2 separate regions of the Homo sapiens genome follow, and region 2 is linked to region 1. Evidence: fine-mapped expression QTL. A gene starts in region 1. The other region holds a variant in brackets. All regions are shown on one strand. Distances are from middle to middle. Region 1 holds the start of ANKRD6 (ankyrin repeat domain 6). Region 2 overlaps ANKRD6 (ankyrin repeat domain 6).

Evidence for each region. PIP is the estimated chance that this variant, and not a neighbour inherited with it, causes the effect.
Region 2: its variant is the best candidate, but not a certain one, in a credible set for the expression of ANKRD6 in whole blood (INTERVAL, PIP 0.84).

Annotation. Positions count from the first base shown.
Region 1 is chr6:89,428,128-89,439,997 of GRCh38, reverse strand. It overlaps ANKRD6 (ankyrin repeat domain 6), which reads right to left and starts at 6,846. Exons shown (of 16, transcript NM_001242809.2): 1 at 6,623-6,846. LOC124901360 (a long non-coding RNA gene) reads left to right here. Exons shown (of 2, transcript XR_007059675.1): 1 at 1-6,581; 2 at 7,411-9,790. RefSeq lists a silencer at 6,575-7,054.
Region 2 is chr6:89,568,194-89,580,063 of GRCh38, reverse strand. All of the region lies in intron 2 of ANKRD6 (ankyrin repeat domain 6), which reads right to left. Among named protein-coding and RNA genes, the nearest start is that of MDN1-AS1, 64 kb to the left of the region's middle. The variant C/T (reference allele first, on the strand shown) is at 5,057.

The DNA of each region.
Region 1 (11,870 bases):
AGGCCAGGCATGGTGGCTTAGGCCTGTAATCCCAGCACTTTGGGAGGCCAAGGTGGGCAGATCACTTGAGGTCAGGAGTTCAAGAGCAGCCTGGCTAACATGGTAAAACCCCGTCTCTACTAAAAATACAAAAATTAACCGAGTATGGTGGTGCACCTGTAATCCCAGCTACTCGGGAGGCTGAGGCACAAGAATTGCTTGAACCCAGGAGGCGGGGTTTGCAGTAAGCCAAGATGGCACTACTGCACTCCAGCCTGGGTGACAGAATGAGACCCTGTCTCGGAAAAAGAAAAAAAAGAAAATTAGGATTTAAAAGATGGTAAATTTTAATTATTTGGGCCTTTTCCTTAGGTAGAACAGCCCAATGTCAACTAGTAACAGATAAATGACGCTGAAGCATTACTAGAATTAGTGCACATTACTGAAGTTTCTCCATGACTCTAACTGGGTCTTGGGATCTTTCACATGATCTTGTAATCCTTTAATGTCTACCATTTGATGCTGTGCACCCTCTTGGGCACAAATTTACTTCAAACAAATAAGAAAAACAGATACAAATTTTACAATTTTACTTTCCCTTAAGAGCAAATAAGTAAAATTGACACATATACTTTGTGATTATGTAACACATTCCATGGCAAAAACTTTTTTTTTTGAAGGGGGAATAAGTTTCATACCTAGCCTATTGCCAGCAGCCTAAAGTAGTTTTAAACTCTTATGATAACATTAACGAAGCCATTAAGACATGCATATTCTTGTTCTTTGCTAATCTTTCTCTGCTCCGTCTTTCTCAAATGTACAATTCTCTACATGGTTGGATGATTCTGAGTAAATTAAATATGCTTCATTCCCTAATAAATGTCTGAGCCTAGATGGCTTAATAGCATTTTTATCTGCTCACATGGCAATTATGATACATTTGTTTCCTGTATAGAAGTCTTCTCCACACCCTCCACTATGAAGACATAACATTTTATTTATACAGTGTATATACATATATACAAACACATACATATATATACATATACACATATATGTTTAGAAAGTAAGAAATAGGCCAGGTGCAGTGGCTCACACCTGTAATCCCAGCACTTTAGGAGGCCGAGGCCGGCGGATCACCTGAGGTCAGGAGTTCGAAATCAGACTGGCCAATGTGGCAAAACACTGACTCTACTAAAAATACAAAAATTAGCCAGGCACAGTGGTGGCTGCCTGTAATCCTAGCTACTCAGGAGGCTGAGGCAGGAGAATCACTTGAACCTGGGTGGTGGAGGTTGTGGTGAGCCAAGATCGCACCATTGCACTCCAGCCTAGGCAACAGAGCGAGATTTTGTCTAAAAAAAAAAGTTAGAAATAAATTACATAAAGGCAGTTACACTTAATTGACCAGTTAAAACACTAGCACCTTATTGTACAAAAAATGGCTACTCATCCACCAAAGAGTTCTATTCCTTTCCCAAAGTAAATTATTTTTACTAAGAAACAGTTGCCCAGCCAGGGACTGTATTTCCTAGCTTCCTTGAATCTAGTTGAGGCCATGTGACTGGTTCTGCCAATAGAATGTAAGCAGAAGTGATGTGTTTCCCTTGCTGGTGAAGGCAGTCAACACGGTTTCCTTTTGCCATACTCTTTCCCCCTTGCAGTGACTCTGGAGACCACATGAAGATGGTGGCATCACAAGAAGGAATGAACCTTGATCCCTGAGTCACCTGAAGGACAGCTACCCAGGAGAGCTGCCCAACAGGAATAACTGATTAGGACTTGTGTGAGCTAGATTAAACCACTGAGGTTTGGAAATGTTTGTTACAGCAGTTAGCCTACCTTACAGCATACAGAATATACCTGTATCGGTGAAAGACTCAAATCATGATTTATTGAAGTATTTCTAAGATAAATGCAACTATTGAGGAATCATATGTATAAGAAGAGCTTGCAGGTTACCATTTTTGCCACTTACCTACCCCATTCATCTGAGTTTAAAACCAGTGTGAGCCTGGGCAACAAGGTGAAACCCTGTCTCTACCAAAAATACAAAAATAGTAGGGCGTGGTGTTATGTGCCTGTAGTCCCAGCTACTTAGGAGGCTGAGGTGAGAGGATGGCTTTGAGCCCAGGAGGCAGAGGTTGCAGTGAGTTGAAATTGCACCACTGCACTCTAGCCTGGGTGACAGCGAGACCTTGCCTCAAAAATAAAATAAAATAAAATGAAACCAGTCTGAATGAGTAGAGACCTACTTATTAAGTAAATTCTGATATTTAACATCTTTTCTAACACTGTGTAAATTCTATAGCTCATCTGTATCACTGGATATGAAACAAGGTAGGACGTATTGTATGCTATATTTAGAATACATTTGGAACATAAAGTGTAAACCAGAAGACACTCTTAAAATTAAATTTGCCTCCCCCAAAGCAGAATGTACTGGACTTCAGTCATTCAGTACCATCTTCATGAGTTTTTCCATAGCTGTGTACCTAATATATTATTATTTACTTCATATTTTTCTAGACCTAAGGAGGGCACAGAGAGATGTGGCAGTTGTGAGACTTCAGTTCCACATCTGCCCTATTCAGAAGTCCAAGATGTTCATTCTGGGACTTCCTTTGGCTCTTGAGGAATTGGTCCTGGAGTTTTCAGGATCCAGATGAATAGCTGGGGGCTCTGAGGAAAAAGAACTGGTCGGGCTTATCTGGGGTCTGAGCAGAAAGAAAGCCTCTTGTAACTGGTGGGGGAAAGATATGTCAGAGAACTGAAATGGGATAAGACATCCAAATAAAGGGGCCTTTTATGGGGTGGGGGTAGGTAGGAATCTGTAAATATTTCCTTATAGCGCTTACTAACCTTTTTTGACTTAGGAAACCATTTGAGAATCTGATGAAAGCTATGGAACTTCTTCCCCCTCAAACATACATAAGAGCATTCACTTAAATACTTATACATAATTTTGGGAGATCTTAGAGTATTTGTAGCCCACCACTGAACCCCAGGTTAAAAATTCTTATTTTAGTGACAAATTTAATAGCTGATCCTCAGGTTTATAAAGGAACCCACCAGTAAATAATGCAGACACTTCCCTATAAAAGAGAGAGAACATAGCTATTTCTTCCATCTCTTCCCCCTTGACGGGATGAGGAAGAGCTGGGAAATAGAGATAATGTCACCCCTAAGCTTTTCTCTGCTGCTGTCCCTAACCTCAGTGCCTTGGTACAGTCCAGCAGTGGGGCACCATCAACAGAATTTGTTTTTAAAAAACGTTTAAAAACTTTATTTTGAAATAATATTAGTCTTACATAGAAGTTGCAAAAATAGTACATGAATTCCCTATTCTGTCCTCCCCCTACCCCTGGTAACTACCATTCTACTTTCTGTCTCCATGTGTATGACTACTCTAGGTACCTAATATAAACAGAATCATACAATATTGTCCCTTCTGTGACTAACTTATTTCACCTAGCATAATGTTTTCAAAGTTTACTATTTTGGACCCCCTGACTGGGTGTTTTGCAACTATAGCAAATTAAAATGGGCAATGTAGAAAATCTGAAAATTTCAATGGAAACTAGTATACCAAACATGTCTGGACACTGCTGAACCTATTAACTGGAGGTAGTTTGCAGTTTCAACAGTAGATCATGTTACATTCCTATCCAAGACAATACATCTTTGCAAAGCTGGGTTTTCTGTGGCTGCTGTGATAAAAGCCAAATGCTGCGGAAATATTAATGTGAAACAGGAAATGAGAGTGGCAGTGTCCAACACGATCCCAAGGTTTGAAAAGTAGTATAGGCACACACATACGGTTAGTAATTATGACTTTAAAGGATGTAAAATATTTTTTCTCTCAGTTTATGTATATTATTTTTTCAAACAACTTCTAAGTAAATACTCAGTTGTTTGAACCTAACTACTAACTACTGAAACCTAAGGGAATTGTGAAAAAATTACTAACTACTGAAGCCTAAGGGAATTGTGAAAAAATTAACTCAGACACTAAGGGCTCCATGAAACCAAGTTTCAGAATCTTTGCCTTAACCAAGAAGTAACAAAACAGTGTAAGATTCACCAAGGAAAGCCATGTGACCTTGAAGAAATAAAACAAAGACAATAACACAAACATATCAACCAGGAAGAGGAATTTGGGTTGTTAAAACCATTTTTAAAGGTCACTCTTAGCTTAATCCTTCAAATCCCACACAATGCCTTCTGGATAATTTGCATTTTTAAAAAAACTTCTAAAACGCACGCACCCAAATTACTGTTTTCCCACTTCTTAGGGACTCAAGCAAAGCTTTTAAAATCACAGCCATCAATCTATGTTGGAAGAGACTGGGTCTCCCCTACACAGACAGAACACACCTTCGGGATCCGTGCCAGGGAGACAGGAGAAACTTGGAAGAAGACAGAGACTAAAAGATCCCCCGACTTTGAGACTTTCGGCTTTTTTGTGGTTTGTATCTTACCCTCAATAGCCTGCTTTTAAGTTCAATAACAATGCTCCTTGAGAAAAAAAGAAAAATAAAGAATGCTCCAGGTTATTGTGGAAATGCTTGTTGGGAAACTTCCTTTCCTCAGGGTTTTTCATATAAGCAAGGGAAAAAGTTAACACAACATCCAGAATAGTGGTTCCTTGGGTGGGAGGCGAGAAGTGAGTGGAAGGCAATGGAGAGGGGTACTCAGGGGCTCCAGGGGCCTGGCGATGTTCTAGTTCTTCAGCCGGGTGACTCGTACTTGGGTGTGATCTATTGTTATTCTTTACATTGCACTCTAAGGTTTATACTGTCTGAGTGTATGATGTATTTCACAGTGGCAGCACCAGCATCTCTATACAAGAAGGAGGCCTTGGGAGTTGGAAGTGTGCCTTGTCTCTAAGCTGAGTTGGATCGCAGGCAGTCTGCTTTTACATGGAGCATATGCTTATCTGGAAAGGCTTTGGGGAGGCTGATGAGTTTAAGTGGGAGACTAAGATTAATTTTTGGTGCCACCATGAAAAAACAAGGAGTTAATAAATTCACATTTTTAAAAATTACCATTGGTTTATACCTCCCAACACTGCGACTAGTTGTTTTCTGGTCTCTTTAATTCCTCTTCATCCCTCTTCTACCCTTCCCCCATGTCCAGTATGACCTAGAGGGCAGAAAATACTCCCCAATTTTAATTTGTATCCCTAATTTTTAAAAAATTTTTTGTTACCATATGCTAAACAAATACTAAAGATGACAAAGTGTAACATGTATCGGTATAGACACACCTACTACACTCAAGAACAAGGCTGCAGACCAGTACAGTGGCTCACACCTGTAATCCCAACACTTTGGGAGGCTGAGACAGGAGGAGTTCGAGACCAGCTTAGGCAACACAGTGAGACTCTGTCTCTAGTAAAATAAAAAAATTCAAAATTAGCCAGGTGTGGTGGTCCCAGGCTGAGGTGGGAAGATCGGTTGAGCTAAGGAGGTCAAAGCTTACAGCCTGGGCAACAGAGCGAAACTCTGTCTCAAAACAACAACAACAAAAACCCCGCCAAGGCTGCTATTGGTGTTTTGGGGATGAGAAACCCCCAATCAGTATACCATGGATGGGACCACCTTGGACCCAGGTGTGTTTGTCTTCATTGCCCAAGTTCTTTCCACTTACACTGGCCTAACAGAACCTAAGCATGAATGAATTCAACATCCAACAGGTTCGCAAAAGGTGTCTAACACACAAGAGTACAATGCCAAGCATTTCATTCCCATCACTTCACTGCATGAACACAATACTACGAGGTTATGTACAATACCTGCAGTTTAGAGTTCTAAAAACTAAGGTTTAAAGAAGTGGGTTTTCCAAAGTCACACACCTAACAAGTGGTGGAGTCAGAACTCCATCTCACGGGCCCGAAGTGGCTCTTTACTACCACGTGACCCATCTCATGCTACCTCGCGGGGGAAACATTCTTGACCAGCTTTGAGACATTCAAGTCCCTCTTGGGTCACAAATAATGCTGCACTTCCCCTCCAGTCCCCGAGATCTACCGGAAGCAACACACTTAAAAGCCCAAGATAAGCTTGGGTGAGCTGATGTCTGGACCCAAACCAGACAGCACGCCGACTCTCTGGACCCCGGGAGATGCCACTTGCTGAGGCTTCGCCGATGGGGCTCCTGAGGGGTATCGGCCCCTCTCCTGCGACTGCACCCTAGTGCTGTCGTCCAGGGCGGGGAGGGACGGGGTCATTCGGAGGCGGCCGCAGGCCAGGGACCTACCCTCCTACGCGCCGCAGACCGCGGGGTACTCGGACCCCCGCCCCCACCGCCCTTCCTTCAAACTGCAAGCGAGCAGGAGAACGAGGGACGAGCCCCAGAAGAAAGTTCTCCACCTCCCTCGCCCGAAGTTCCATATTCCAGGGAGGCAACTGATGCCAGGCGAAGAGGGAGGCGCCCCGGGGGGACCCCCTCGCGCCGGGCGTTTTCGGAGGCCGCAGGCCAGGGGGCGAGGCGCGGTGTCCGGGTCTCCTCCGCGGGCAGTCGGCGATCCTGGGGTGCCGAGGGAGCAGCGCCCCCTTCCCCCGACAGCGTCCTCCCCGACCTGAGGCGCCCACCCCGGTGTAAGCGGGGGTCCCAGGGAGCCGGCGAGGTCGCCTGGTACCTTTCTCTCCCGCGCCGGACGTCCGCGCCGCAGGGACCAAGGCCGGCGACACGGTGGGGGGCGAGGGGCGAAGACGGGGACTGGCTCCCGCTGGCTCCGGCGGCCCCAGGGCCTCGGCGCCGCCCAGCGCCGTGCCTCCAGCCGCCCGCGCGCCAGGCAGCGCTCTCGGCTCCTGCGGGTTACCTGTGGCCGAGCCCGCCGCGTCCGCCGCCGCAGGGCCCTCTGCCCCGTCCCGCCGGCCCCGCCCCACCCCTGCCGGCGGCTCCTACGCCGGTGCCGCAGCGCCTCCCAGCGGCGAGCCGGGGCACGGCAGGGACCCTCGCGAGAGAGAGGTGGCACCGCGGAGGCCCTGGGGCTGGCCCCGATCTGCAGCCCTCTCCTGGGTGGGGCCACCGCCTTCTGAAGAGTGGGAGGAAGGGGGCCTATAGTAGGGTGAGGTTTTCCGCGTGGGGGTTGCCAGGAAGTGTATTGGGAGGGGAGGAGAATTAGCAGGAGGAACCTCCCACCTTCACTCAATTCGTGGCCAAGTGGATATTTCAATATAACCATAGCTCACTTAACTGGGGCTGCTCAGTACAAACTGAACAACAATGATGAATGACCCAGATTTATTGGGGTAGCTGGAGAGGGGAAAGGAAGCCTTTATTTCTAACAGCTTGACTATAAGTATCTTGTTGGAATCATCCCATATGGAAATGGCAAAAGCATTGAGCGAGCCTGACCCCCATATTCATATCACACTTTACATACCATTATCTCAGTCTGGTTTTGTCTATTTTCATTCACAGCCACTTCTTCAATACCTAGAAGAGCTCCCTGAACACAGGAAGCATTCAATAAGCTACTGTTGAATACATGTAAGATGGATGGGATCTCATTCCACCCTTTGAAGAAGCATGGACAGGTATCTGCTCTCCAAAGGCGGAGAGATGGAAGAGGAGGCAAGCAGCACCCTAAAATGGACTATCAATCTTACCTGAGGTTTTGGGACAAGCTTATCACGAATCTGATTTTTTTTTCTTTCTTGCTTAAAATTTTTTTTTGAGACGAAGTCTCACTCTGTCACCCAGGCTGGAGTGCAATGGCACCATCTAGGCTCACTGCAACCTCCGCCTCCCAGGTTCAAGTGATTCTCCTGCCTCAGCCTCCTGAGTAGCTGGGATTACAGGTGCCCGCCACCATCCCTGGCTAATTTTTGTATTTTTAGTAGAGATGGGGTTTCACCATATTGGTCAGGCTGGTCTCGAACTCCTGACCTCGTGATCCTCCAGCCTCGGCCTCCCAAAGTGCTGGGATTACAGGCATGAGCCACTGCACCCAGCCGACTTTTCTTATTCCCTCTGAAACAGGCCTGGTTTCCAGGAGAAAAGAAACATGATGATTTCTTCCTTTTCCTTAAGATGTTTGTTTCCCTCTCTCCTTCAGGGATCATTAGGCAGGAGAGATCCCAAGAGCCTGTTTCCACACTAGGAAGGGGAAGTTCTTGATTTTCTCCTACTGCTTCTGAAATTTTCCCAACCCCATAGTCACAGCTGCAGTTTTACCTAACAGGATGTGAAATCTCTCTTCTGAGTATCCTTTGGCCTTTTCCAGACTTTTTTTTCCCCCTTAAGATGGGGCCTTGCTGTGTCACCCAGGCTGAAGTGCAGTAGCCCACTGCAGTCTTGAACTCCTGGGCTCAAGCAATCCTCCTGCCTCTGCCTCCTGAATAGTTGGGATTACAAGTGTGCACCACCATGCCCAGCTAATTTTTTTATGTTTAACACAGAGGAGGTCAAGGCTGGTCTTGAACTCCTGGGCTCAAGTAATCCTCCGGCCTCAGCCTCCCAAAGTGTTGGGATTACAGGTGTGAGCCACCGCGCCCAGCCCTTCTTCAGATTTGTGCCCCATTCCTGTTGCTCTACACCTGGAGCTGATAGAAGAACACATTTCCTTTCTCTGCTGGCTTGTAGCTCCAGGTTTCTCTCCAGGCAGGTTACTAATGAGTTCCTAGATAACCCTCAAAGTCAAAGTTTGTACACATGACCTTTCTTTTTATTTTTTGAGATGGAGTTTTGCTTTTATTGCCCAGGCTAGAGTGCAGTGGTGCAATCTCGGCTCACTGCAACCTCCACCTTCCGGTTTCAAGCAATTCTCCTGCCTCAGCCTCCCAAGTAGCTGGGATTACAGGCGCCTGCCACCACGCCCAGCTAATTTTTTTGTATTTTTAGTAGAGACGGAGTTTCACCATGTTGGTCAGGCTGATCTCGAACTGCTGACCTTGTGATCCACCTGCCTCAGCCTCCCAAAGTGCTGGGATTACAGGTGTGAGCCACCGCGCCCAGCCACATGACCTTTCAATGTGATCATTTCTCTCTTGTACTTTTCCACATTGAGTTTTCCTAGCTAGTCCCTCGAATAAACTTCCAAAGATGCAAATGCTCAGTTTCCCTGATAGGCTTTTAAAACATCACCAGAAAGTCACATTGAGATGAGATTTTAAGTTATATTTGTGGGTAGTCAGAGCAATGACCCCGAAAGAAACAGAAAGCCCAAGCCAGCCTGCAAGACATGTGAGCGCTCCTGGGAACTGACTGGTCTGCTTTTGTTCCCAGACTTTGATTAATGGGGATTCCTGGCAGGAGGTCTCATGAGAGCCAAAGCAGGCAGTGGCTGAGCTGCTTGGAGATCTTGCTTGCTTATCTCCAAGTGGGCAGACAGTCTTTGGGCGACCAACGAAGAAGACTCCTAAATCTCCCTCTTTATGAGAAGGGCTCCCAGGCTGCAGCTCTGTTCTTGCCCCTACGTTCAGCTCAATCACAGCCAGCCTCTTATATTCACCCTAGCTCACCCTCCTTCTGCCTTGTGAGAAAGAAGTTTGCTCTGCAAATGATCATTTTCACTGCTTTGTGATAATATAATCTGCTCCTATTTTCAACAACATGTCTTTAATGAGCTGACTGCATTAGCTGTCTTTCATGTTGTTAGCTTCAACGCAGCCTTCAACACACCATTCTGGCTTCCATCCCTGCCACTCCACTGAAACTGCCTTTGCTAAAGCTTCCACTCAAGGAAGAACCCTTCCATCTGCCGCTCTATAATCATATCCTTCTCTTTCAGAGGAAACCACCATCCTAAGTTTTGTGTTAATAATTATGTTATCACAAATATATGTGTCCCTAAACACTACATGGTTTGTTTTTGCGTGTTTTTGAGCTTTTTTAAAATAGAATCATTCTGCATTATTCCCATGCAACTTGCAGCTTTTGCCCAGCATTATGTTTCTGAGATTCACCTATCTGATTTCTCTGTTATATAGGTATTTTGTTGTAAAAACATAACACAATTTAATTACCCATTCTACTTTTGGATGTTGGATTGGCTCCAGTTTTTGCTATTGCAAACAGTGTTGCTGTGAATATTCTTAAATATTTCTCCGATACATGTGTGTAAGAATGTTTTTTAGGATATATACCTAGAAGTGGAATCATCAGGTCTTAAGGTAAGTGCACGTTCAAATTTACTAGGTAATGTCAAACTGTCTAAACTGGTTGTTTTCTAAAATTGTTTTCTAAAGTGGTCATACCAATTTTCATTTCTAACACCTGTATATGAAAGTCATCTGGCCGGGCATGGTGGCTCACGCCTGTAAATCCCAGCACTTTGGGAGGTCGAGGCGGGTGGATCACGAAGTCAGGAGATCGAGACCATCCTGGCTAACACGGTGAAACCCCATCTCTACTAAAAATACAAAAAATTAGCCTGGCATGGTGGCGGACGCCTGTAGTCCCAGCTACTCGGGAGGCTGAGGCAGGAGAATGGCGTGAACCCAGGAGGTGGAGCTTGCAGTGAGATCGTGCCACTGCACTCCAGCCTGGGTGACAGAGCGGGACTCCGTCTCAGAAAAAAAAAAAAGAAAGTCATCCATGTCCCACAATCTTTGCCAGCACTTGTTTTCATCTAAATGATCTCTCATAATAGTTGTAGTTTGTATTTCCCCAATTACCAGTATGGCTGAGCATCTTTAATGTTTAATAGCTAGTCCTGTTTCCTCTTTTGTTAATTGATGGTGTCTTTTGCCTTGTTTCATGTGTTTTGAGAAGTCCTTTCTGACCCCAAGGATATAAAAATATTCTCCCATATTTTATTTCAAGTGTTACAATTTTGTCTTTCATGTGTAAGTCCACATTCTATCTGAAATTCATTTCTCCTTTCATTTGCAATGCCAGAACTCTCTTACAATGGATTTTTATACACATATAGGTTTGTTTTCGGTCCTCTATTTTGTTCCATTTGTCTATCCCTCTGCTAGCATCATACTGCCTGAAATCTTTGGTTTTCTTTTTTTTTTCTTTCTCTTTCTCTCTTTCTTTTCTCTTTTTTTTTCTTTTTGAAAGAGCCTCGCTCTGTTGCCCAGGCCAGAGCATAGTAACATGATCTTGGCTCACTGCAACCTCCTTCTCCTGGGTTCAAGTGATTCTCCTGCCTCAGCCTCCTGAGTAGCTGGGATTACAGTTGCATGCCACCACGCCCAGCTAATTTTTTTAAAATTATTTTTTAGTAGAGACAGGGTTTCACCGTGTTGGCCAGGCTGGTCTTGAACTCCTGACCTCAAGTGATCCACCCGCCTTGGCCTCCCAAAGTGCTGGGATTACAGGTGTGAGCCACTGTGCCTAGCCTGTGGTTTTATTTCAAGTGTTGATTTCCAAATATACAAGTCCTACCCTGACTTATTTCTCTTTTTTATTTATACAGATCTCAAGTATTCTTAGCTCTTTTCTCCTTCATAGACATTTTCTAATTCATTTGTTATGATAAACTTGAGATTTTAATTTGAAATCTCAAATCTCAGTAAATATATGTGGTGGATTGCATTGTTCATTCACAATTATTCGTACCCTTTCCATCTTTGCCATGCTTTTCTATAGGTCGGGTAAACCAGTCTGCTCCATTGGTTTTGGGCTTGTGTTGACTTGCCTTGGCAAACACCACATTGGAACAGAAGCTTAAAATATGTTGTATGCTTTAGTGCTTCCCCTACCTCCCTTGAGCTTCTGCCATTTGCCATGAGAATATCATGCCCCAAAGAGTGGCTGCACCTTCCGTGGGGATCCAGAATGAAAAGACAAATGGAATCATGCAGAGTCCAATATGGCCACAAAAAGTCTGCAGCCTTCATGTAATAGAAGCAAGAATGTTTCCTACTACTGCTATTTGGAAAAAATTGGCATCTTTATGATATTAAGTCATTGGTACAATGTGTGTGTGT
Region 2 (11,870 bases), 140 kb before region 1:
GCTCCTTTGCAGTCAATAATTTCCCACCATCTCCAGCCCCTAGCAATCACTGATCTATTTTCTGTCCCTATAATTTTGACTCTTCTAGTAAGTCTGGAAGATACCAGTATGTCCGGAAATCAGGTAGCAGAAGTCCTTCAACTTTGTTCTTCAACGTCACTTTGGCTATTCTAGGTCTTCTGCATTCCATATAAATTTTAGAATCAGCTTCTCAACTTCTACTCCAAAAAGCTGATAGTTTTATTAAATGTTGGACACTGAGACACTTTGTCATCTCATTTAGCCTTTTTTTTTTTTTTTTTTTTTTGAGACAGGGTCTTGCTCTGTGGCCCAGGCTGGAGTGCAGTGGCACTATCTTGGATTACTGCAGCTTCCGCCTCCTGGGTTCAAGCAATTCTCCTGCCTCAGGCTCCCAAGTAGCTGGGATTACAGGCGTGCACCACCACACCCGACTAATTTTTGTATTTTCAGTAGAGATGGAATTTCACTAGTCTTGAACTCCTGGCCTCAAGAGATCCACCAGCCTTGACCTCCCAAAGTGCTGGGATTACAGGCATGAGCCACTGCACCCGGCCTTCATTTAGTCTTGATGGCGATCTCATGAGGCTGAGATTATCCTCACTTTTCAGGTAGGATACTGAATGGCCTTGTGTCTTCCACTCAGGACTCCCTGCCTGATACTTGGACCACAGCTCTTAGCATTGTTGCATTGTCAGAATCCCCTCAGTGCCTACTATATTTGACACTGACTATGTGCTAAGCACTGTTCTAAGTAGTTTGCATATACTGATTCAGGTAGTGCTTAAAGAACCTAATGAGGTAGCTACTATTATTTAATCCTCATTTTAGAGGTGATGATATGATGCACAAAGTTATTTCCTCAAGACCATAGAGCTAGTAAATATCATTGGCATTTGAAACAGAGCACCTGGCTCCTGCATCCACGCTTGTACCTTCTACACTACACCGCCTTCATCAGGAATTTCTGAACTTGCTATAAAACTCTGGAAATGGTGTGCAGGAGGCAAGGACAGGGGAGGAGAAAATTCCCTTTGGGCCACCCTGCAGACAGCTTCTTTCTCTGTCTGCACTGAGGGGTGGCCAGCATAGTGGTGGAAGGGCAAGGACTATGGAGGTGCTGGAAACAAGGGTCAGGAGTGCCTACATGTGGGCCTCAGGGCCACATAAAGCTGGCTCCTTCTCAGGGCTAGCACCTACTACTTCTTTGGTCATGGGCAAGTTACTTTCTGTCTAGCACCTCCCTTTCCTTATTGGTATCTCAGCGATAAGAGCACTAGCTTGGCAGAGCTGTGGTAAGGATTTCAACCAGATAGTATATGGCAAGCACCTGGCCCACTGCTGGTGCAGGCACTCAACACATATTTTTAAACTTGACTTTATCTTTGACAAAGTACAAAATTAATATATGCTTATTTTAATAACTGAAACAATACAATGAAAAAAATCAGGCTGGATGCGGTGGCTCATGCCTGTGATCCCAGCACTTTGGGAGGCCAAGGCGGGCAGATCACTTCAGGCTAGGAGTTTGAAATCAGCCTAGGTAACATGACAAGACCCCATCTCTACTAAAAATACAAAAATTAGCCAGGTGTGGTGGCACGTGTCTGTAGTCCCAGCTACTCAAGAGGCTGAGGCAGGAGAATCGCTTCAACCCGGGAGGTGGAGGTTACAGTGAGCCGAGACTGGGCCACTGCACTACAGCCTAAGCAAAAGAGTGAGACTCTGTTTCCAAAAAAAAAAAAAAAAAAAAAAAAAAGGAGGCGGGAGGGGGAAAAAGCTAATCGTCTTCCTTGCTAGGCAGCCAATGTTAACAGTCTCATGTGTCCCATGTCGTTCTCCTGGCTCACCAAATGAAAGCATACATTTGTGGAGAGAAGTAGACTTGCCTATTTAAACTGAAGTAGATCACACCGTATGGTCTCCATGCTACCTGCCCTGTGGCACCTCCTGAGTTTTCTGCCTGCCCACTCTGCAGAGAACTCTGGGGGGCTCACCCTCTATGAACAAGCTCTTTGAGGCCCTGGGGTTTGTGCTTAATTATCTAAATTCCAATTTCGTTACTCAGGGAGAGTGGTAGGTATCAAATGGAGATGAATTTTATGAATGATACTGAATTTTCTTCTTAACCAAACTTGCATAAAACAACCTTTGTCTACTTCCTTTTGGAGAAGATAAAAACTTCAGTAAAACATTCCAAGGACCAGCATTTTTGTTGTTTTGTTTTTTGAGACAGGATCTCCCTCTGATGCCCAGGCTGGAGTGCAGTGGCACAATCATGGCTCACTGCAGCCTCAACCTCCTGAGCTCAAGCAATCCTCCCACCTCAGCCTCCTATGTAGCTAGGACTATAGGTGTGCATCACCATGCCCAGCTAATTTTTTATTTTCTGTAAAGACAGGGTCTCACTATGTTTCCCAGGCTAACCAGCTTCTTAACAGTTCTAGGAAATGATACTCTGCCTGGGGACTCCTAGAGGCTCTCAACTCTAATGTTATGGCCAATGCTTGGCACTAAGGAGCATGTAGAGGATTTATCCAGATGACAAAACACCTGTTGGTACTGAGGTAACAAAATTAGCTGTATCAGAAGGTATTTGACTAAAGCACAAGGGAACTGGAGAGAATATGTTCATTTATAAAACCAGAGCTTTCTTGCAAAGAAAAAATATATCCCATTTTTTTGTTTTAGTATCAAACATCTCAAGCAGTGCCTGCAGGGGCAACTAGAAAGACACAGAGTTGAGAGAAGTTAGGAGGCATAATGAGCCTCACTTGGTCACTGACAGGAAGCGTCAGTGGAGGGATGTCAAAGACCCAAAAGAAGAAACGATGGCTTTGGGCTTCTGCTTGAGGTGTGCACAAATGGGGCTCCCTCGTACTGATAAAAAGGGACCTTGGGAAGAGGACCAGGCCTCAGGAGGGGCTGCAGCTTCCAGTGTGGGCACTTCGATTTGAACCTGTGGATTCTGCACATAAAGATGCCCAGGAAGGCTGGGCATGGTGGCTCATGACTGTAGTCCCTGTTACCTGGGAGGAGAATCACTTGAGTCCAGAAGTTTAGGACCAGCCTAGGCAATATAGTGAGACTCTTGTCTCAAAAAAAAATAAAAAATAAAAAATGCCCATGAAGGCAGCTGGCCTTGGGGATCAGGAGACAGGGCGAAGCTGGAGATGGAGACATGGTAACCAGCCTTGAGCTGGAAAAGCCAAGTGGGTGTCCAGAGGGAGAGCAGATGAGCGCAGAGGGCCTGAGGAAAGCCAATTTTAGAGGCAGGAAAAGCAAAAGGAGATGGAGAAGGCACCTTGGGGAGGAAAACCAGGAGGCAGAGCTGACAGACCCAACGGGAGCTTCAGGGATAGGAGTGCAGGCAACAGTGTCAAATTCTAGCCTGTCTCACCAAGAATGCAAGCTCCAGCAAGGACCAAGATGTTTTTTCCTGTCTTGTTCACCAGTGCACAGCTGAAGCTCAAAATATATTGTCTAGATGAGGGAAGGAAAAGGTGACTTTGGTGAAAGGAGTAGCAGAAAAGTGAAGGGTCATGAGCCTGAGTTATTGTCTTTAATAATCTGCTCCAGAGATATCTCAGACTTCTCAGCATACCCAGTGCTTTTATCAGATTACCTGTTCCAGCTGAAAATGTGTTTGTCAACATGATGAAGTACAACTGGTCGAAATATGAAAGTTGTGCAAATGGCCAGGTGTGGTGGCTCACGCCTGTAATCCCAGCACTTTGGGAGGCCGAGGAGGGTGGATCATGAGGTCAGGAGATTGAGACCATCCTGGCTAATATGGTGAAACCCCATCTCTACTAAAAATACAAAAATTAGCCAGGCGTGGTGGCAGGCGCCTGTAGTCCCAGCTACTCAGGAGGCTGAGGCAGGAGAATGGAGTGAACCCAGAAGGCAGAGCTTGCAGTGAGCTGAGATCGCACCACTGCACTCCAGCCTGGGTGACAGAGCGAGACTCCGTCTCAAAAAAAAAAAAGAAAGAAAGTTGTGCAAATGGAAAATCATAGTTCTTAGTGAGCCTTTCTCTTAAAACATGAGTTTTAAATTCTTACATGTAGTTCCCACATCAATTTCCAGCTCCCAACCCCACTTGCTCTGAAGACATGTTCTGTGCATGACAACCCCATCCTTACTTAGTGGACAACATACTGGAACCACCCACTAGGAGTTGAAGTAAAATTCCCAGGACAGAAGAGATGCCCTTATCTGTGGCAGAGAAAATGTCCACAGGAGCCAGGACATTCCAGTTCTCATCTGGGCTCTGGCATGCCCTATTTGAACAAGTCACTTTCCTTCTGTGACCTCATTTCCTCTCAAGGGAAACCATATATATCTTACAAGCCTCTGGGGACAAGCAACATATACATGAAAATAATTCGGAAATGTTTTATACAAGTACAATCCCATTATTGGGAAATCGCTTATTTTTTTTTAAGTAAAGTACCTGGGCATATTGAGCTCCCAGTCAATAAAACATTTGCAGATTATATCCACAATGTGTCAGGTGCCAAGGAATATGCTCTAACAAGCAGCAGCCCATAGAAAGTTCACAATCTAAACTTATAAACCACATAGTGGAAACATGATGGTTACCAGTGTTGGGGCTCAAAAAACAACCCAAAAGGAAGGCCTCACAAGCAAAAGTTTTTCTCTGACCTCTTCCTGCCCTCCTATCTCTGGCCCCTCAATTCCTCCCCAGAGGCTAACCATAGAAACTAGAATCCCTCTTCCCCCAAGGCAGGTCATAGAAACCAGAATCTGCTACCCTCAAAGCCAGCCATAAAACTTAAAAATATTACTCTAACCTTCCCCTCCTCCCCTTTCTGCGTAAAAGCAAGCCATAAAGAAATTATCTGACCTAGTTGAATGTAGGTCTTAACACTCCATTCCAGAGAGGGTCCTGCCTCATACCTAGAAGGCAGAAATGCTCAGCTCAGAAAGGCCAAGAAGAATGTAGACAGACAGGCTTTGCTGGGTTTCCCATGCAATCAGCATTAGATCGTGCCCTTTCTGTCCAATCATATTT[C/T]TACATGGCTATCCACACTCTTTTGAACCTAAGCATAAAAATGGACAATTTCCCCTGCATTTTTGGGTCCTCATTCTGAAGGCTCCTGTATGTACATGTTAAATAAATTTTTATGCCTCTTCTACAATTTATCTGCCATTTGTCAGCTGATTTTTCAGTGAGCCTTCAAGGGCCAAGGGGAACTTTCCTCCTTGCCTCCTGTGGGAGCAAGGACTCTCGAACCACATGGCCAGGGTTTGAGTCCCAGTTTTGACACTTTCTAAGGGAAACTTAGGGCAGGTTACCTGATCATTCCTTGCCTCAGTTTCCTCATCTGTAAAATGGGGATAATAGCCATGGTGAGGTTTAAAATACTTAATTGTTGTAGAGCTCTTACAAGAGTACCTAATACCTTGCAATTGCTATCAAAGTGTAAGAAATTCACAGTCAATAACATTATTCCCCTCATTCGGCACAGATGGGATGTGAGTACCTTGCTAGGCACTGGATGAGTTAAAAAATAATCAATATTTTATGTCCACTTAGATTTTATAACTATGGCAACATGTGCTATCACATTTAGTGCTTATGGAAACTCTAAGGTTTGTGAGGAAATAGAGACTCCTGTCATGATTGGCCTAATCCATGGTTCTGAGGCGGGGATGATTTTGTTCCTCAGGGGATGTCTGTCAGTGTCCAGAGACATTTTTGGTTGTCAAAATCCAAGGAAAGGAAGTACTACCAGCACATCTATGGCAAGAAGCCACAGATGCTGCTAAATACCCTACAATGCACAGGAAAGTCCCAATAGCACAGGATGATCTGGCCCAAAATGTCAGTGATGTTGCTAAGGCTGAACAACCCTGGCCTACATTAATAAGCCTTTAATAAGCAGCAGAACAGGTGCCTACACCAAGGTCTTTGGATTCCAAATTCAGTGCCTTTCTCCTCTGTCAAACACAGATAAATGTAAGAGAGACACTATGACCCAGGTCACAGTGATGATGTGGTGGGGAGTTCTGAGCACCCACAGAGCAGTATGAAGGACACAGAATGCATAGAGAACAAGGTTACATCAATTGGGAGGAGAGCAAATTCCATCCAGGGTACCATTCACTGGGTGGACTTCATGTTGGTGGTGGCTCCTGAGCTGAGTCCTGAATGGGCAGGTCCTTCAAGGGGCAGAGTGGATGCAAAAGGCCTTTCAGAAGACAGTTGCAAGGAACACTATAAGCTGACTTTCCCAACAGCAACACTATAAGTTCAAAGATGAGGCACTGCGTTTGAAGTTCTTAGGCAAAATAATTCTCTGCCTAGGTTTCTATACCAAATTGTCCCGTAAGCAAGAGGGTAGAATAAGGAGTTTCAGACATGCAGACTCTCAAAAAATTTATGTACATATTCCCTTTCTTAGGAAGAAATCAAAGAATGTGCAGTATCAAAGTTAGAGTGACATGGGTTCCAGCAAACAGGGATCTAATACAGGGGAGAGGTGAAAGGACTTCTCAAGATGACTGTGCAGAACTAGAGAGCAACCCAGATCAATCAGAAAGAAGGATAAATGACTCCAGAGGGGATATCCCCAGGAAAAGACTCGGGCTGATAAATATGTAATAGGTTTACTCATGGAGAATTGCACTAAGAACGGTTTTACAGAGTTATCAGATAGTAGATGAAACATTTACCAATAAATTTAAATCAAATTAAACAAGTGAAAAAATTAGGGTAACTATCAGCTCCAGGAAAAATAATAAGATATATATTTTTTAAAAAAGTAATCATTCTCAGCTAACCAGTGAGCAGCATTTACATAGTCACAATAATTATAAGTCTGATTTTAAAATTGTGGTATTTGGGAGGCTGAGGCAGTAGGATCGCCCAGGAAGTTGCTCATTATTATCAGCTAGGCATGGTGGCACACATGCCTGTAGTCCCAGCTACTCAGGAGGCTGAGGCAGGAGGATTGCTTGAGCCCAGGAGGTTAAGGCTGCAGTGAGCCGTGTTCACACCACTGCACTCCAGCCTGGGAGACAAAGCAAGACTCTGTGTCAAAACAAACAAACAAACAAACTGTGAAGAGCTCACACTTTCTGACTTCAAAACACATTAAAAGCTACAGTAATCAAAACAGTTGGTATTAGAATAAAAATATATAAAACCTGTGAAATATAATAGAAAGCATAGAAATAAACCTTCATGTATATGGTCAAATGATCTTCAGCAAAGATACCAAGACCGCTCAATGGGAAAAGGATAGTCTCCTCAACAAATGGTCCTGGGAAAGCCAGATACCCACATGCAAAAAAGTAAAGATGGACCCTTACCTTACACTATATAAAAAATTAACTCGAAATGGAATAAAAACCTAAATATAAGATCCAAATCTATAAAGCTTCTACAAGGGGAAAAGCTTCATGACATTGGATCTGGCAATGATTTCTTGGATATGACAATGCTAGCACAGGTAATAAAAGCAAAAATAGACAAATGGGACATCAAGCTTGAAAATGTTTGTGCATCAAAGAACACAATCAGCAGAGTAAAAAGACAAGCTACAAACAACGAGATACCACTGTAAAGCTACTAGAATGGTCAAAATCCGTAAGATTGAAACACCAAATGCTGGTGAGAATGTGGAGCAACAGCAAATCTCATTCATTGCTGATGGGAATCCAGCAGTTTGGCAGTTTCTTACAAAACAAAACATTCTTACCATGTGATCCAGCAACTGCACTCCTTGGTATCTAGTGAAAAAAGCTGAAAGTGTATGTCCACACAAAAAACTGCACATAAATGTTTATAGCAGCTTTACTCATAATTACCAAAATTGGGAAGCAACCAAGATGTCCTTCAGTAGGTGAATGCTTCCAAAACTGTAGTATATCCATACAACGGAAGATTTTTCAGTCCTAAAAGGAAATGAACTATCAAGCCATGAAAAGACATGGAAGAACCTTAAACGCATATAACTAAGTGAAAGAAGCCAATATAAAAAGGCTACATATTGTATGATTCCAACAACATGACATTCTGAAAAAGGTAAAACTATGGAGACAGTAAGAAGATCCAGTGGTTGCCAGGGATTGGGGTGGGAGGAGGGAAGGGGATAAATAGGTGAAGCACAGAGGATCTTTAGAGCAGTAAAAATAATCTATATGATACTATACTGGTGGATGTATGTCATTATACATTTTTCCAAATCCATAGAATGTACAAGAATAAGCCGTAATGTAAACTATGGACTTTGGGTGATAATGATGCGTCAGTATAGGCTCACCAGTTGTAACAAATGTATCACTCTGGTGGCGGATGTTGATAATGGGATAGGTTAAACATGTTTAGGGGCGGGAGCAATACGGGAAATCTCTGGACCTTCCTCTCAATTTTGCTGTGAATCTAAAACGGCTCTAAAAAAGTACTCCTAAAGGCAACCACAGAATGAGAAAAAATGTTGCAAATCAAATATATGATAAAGGATTAATATCTAGAATATATAAAGAACTCTTACAACTCAACACCAAAAAAAATCAAATAACCAGATTAAACAATAGGCAAAGGACTTGAATAGCCATTTCTCCAAAGATGATACACAAATGGCAAACAAGCATATAAAAAGACATTTAATATCACTAATAATCAGAGACATGCAAATCAAAACCACAGCAAGATATCACCTCACACCCATTAGGAAGGTCAGTAAAAATAGTAGCACTTTGGGAGGCCAAGGCCAGCGGATCACGAGGTCAGGAGATCGAGACCACCCCTGGCTAACACGGTGAAACCTTATCTCTACTAAAAATAAAAAAAAAATTAGCCAGGCATCATGGCGGGCACCTGTAGTCCCAGCTACTCAGGAGGCTGAGGCAGGAGAATGGCGTGAACCCGGGAGGTGGAGCTTGCAGTGAGCCAAGATAGCACCACTGCACCCCAGCCTGGGCGACAGAGCGAGACTCCGACTCAAAAAAACAAACAAACAAAAACAGAAGGCAAGTATTGTCAAGGATGTGGAAAAGTGGGAACCCTTGTGCACTGTTGGTAGCACTGTAAAATGGTGCAACAGCCATGGAAAACAGTATGGAAGTTACCCAAAACTTTAAAAATAGAACTACCATATTTCACTTCTGAGTATATAACCAAAAGATATGAAAGCAAGGGCTCAAACACCCATGTATACCCATGTTCATACAGCAATATTCACAACAGGCAAAAGGCGGTAGCAACCCAAGTGTCCATCAGTGGATGAAGGGATAAACCAGATGTGGCATATACATAAAATGGATTATTATTCAACCTTAACAAAGAATGAAATTCTGGTACATGCTACATGAGTGAATCTTGAAAACACGCTAAGTGCAATAAGCTAGTCACAAAAGGACAATATGGTATGATTCCACTTATTTGAGGTGCGGCTAACAGTCAAATTCAGAGACAGGAAGTAGAATGGTGGGTGCCAGGGTCTGGGAGGAGGAAATGAGAAATTAGTGTTTAATGGGTATAGAGCTTCAGCTGGGGAAGACGAAAAATTTCTGAAGATGGATGGTGGTGATGGTTGCACAATAATGTGAATGTATTTAATGCCACTAAACTATACATTTAAAAATGGTTGAAGTAGTACATTTACTATGTATATTTTACCACAATAAATAAATTTTAAAAATATAAAAGAAAGGCCAGGCATGGTGGCTCATGCCTGTAATTCCAATACTTTGGGAGGCTGAGGAGGGAAGATCACTTGAGACCAGGAGTTCGAGACCAGCCTGGGCAACGTAGGGAGACCCTGTCTTAACAATTAACAGTGTGCATGCCTGTAGTCCCAGCTACACAGGGAGCTGAGGTGGGAGGATTGCTTGAACCTAGGAGGTGGAGGCTACAGTGAGCTATGTTCATGCCACTGCATTCCAGCCTGGGTGACAGAGGGGAGCATATCTTAAATAAATTATACACACACACACACACACACACACATATACACACATACACACACACGAGTATAACATAAATAAAATATTAAACTTGACTTCACTAAAAAAACTAAACTGTTGAATCAGGTGGTAGAACATACATATTCATTGGAAATATGGAGACAAATACCAGAAAAGAAACATCTAGAAGGCTGAAAGTTGTTTCTTTGGAGTGTAAATGGGACTGGGCTAAGGGATCACTGTTTTTATTAAAAACCTTTAGCAGTATTTGAACTAATAGTTTTAAAATTCCAATGGGAATCTTTGCTAAAGATAACTATGAAAAAGCAAATGATGTATAAAAAAAGACAGGCAAGCACTGGTGAGATTGTAGAGAAGCTGAAACCTTCATACATTGCTGGTAGAATGTAAAATGGTACAGGTATTCTGGAAAATAGCTTGGCAGTTTCTTAACGTGTTAAACAGATTTGCCATACGACCCAGCAATTCCACTCCTAGGAATATACTCTAGAGAACTGAAAACATATTTCCAACACAAAAACTTGTATATAAATTTTCACAAAAGCATTATTCATAATAGCCCCAAACTGGAATCAACCACAAATGTCCATCAACTGATAAAGAAATAAACAGAATATATGTATACAATGGATTATTACTCAGTCATGAAAAGGAATGAAGTACTGATACATGCTACAACAGAGATGAACCTTGAAAACTTTATGCTAAGTGAGAGAAGTCAGACACAAAAGACCACATACCATATGATTCTATTTACATAAAATGCCTAGAAAAGGTAAGTTTATAGAGACAAAAAGTAGATTCATGGTTGCCAGGAGCTGGGGGTGGGAATGGGAAGTGACAGCTACTGGGTACGAAGATTTTTACTAGGAGCCAGGCGCGGTGGCTCATGCCTGTAATCCCAGCACTTTGGGAGGCCAAGGTGGGTGGGTCACCTGAGGTCAGGAGTTTGAGACCAGCCTGGCCCAACACGGTGAAACCCTATCTCTACTCAAAATACAAAAATTAGGCAGGCATGTTGGTATGTGCCTGTAGTCCCAGCTACATGGGAGGCTGAGGCACAAGGATCACTTGAACCTGGGAGGTGGAGGTTGCAGTGAGCTCTCCTGCCTGGGCAACAGACGGACACACTGTCTAAAAAAAAAAAAAAAAATTATATATATATAAAATTTTCTATTGTGACAATAGAAATGTTCTAATATTTGAATGTGCTTATATTAGTCTTCTCAGGTTGCCAGAACAAGAGATTTGTTCCTCAGTTCTGGAGGCCGGGATGCGTGAGTTCAGGGTACCCGCGTGGTCAGGTTCCAGTGGGGGCCCTTTTCCTAGCTTGCTGATGACCACCTTCTCACTGTGTCCTCACATAGCAGGGAGAAGGAGAGACAGCAGACCCTGGTGCCTCTTCTTACATAGAAACTAATTTCATCACAAGGGCTCCACTCTCATGACCCCATTTAAAAACCTAATTACTTCCTAAAGGCCCTATATCTCTAAATACCATTAGGGATTAGGGTTGAAAAAAACGAATTTGGGGGAGAAACAATTCAGTGCATAGCAGTGGTGGTATAAATACGCTAGAAATTATTGAATTGTACAATTAAAATAGGTGAATTTAATGAACGTAAATTATATCTTAATAAAGCTGTTTATAAAATAGCAAATAATTAAGTCTATGTATAGAAAAAACTTGCAGACTATGCCCTAAGTGCATTAAATAAGTTATTGTTCTTATAACAATTCTGAAAAGCTGACATTACTATCCCTCTTTTACAGATAAGAAACTGAGGCTCAAAGAAGTTAAGCAACTTGCACAATTAGCAAACAAAGCAGAGTTAAAATCTGTGAGCAGGTGCCCTAACTACAGAGTCTGCACTCTCTCCCATTTGTGATTG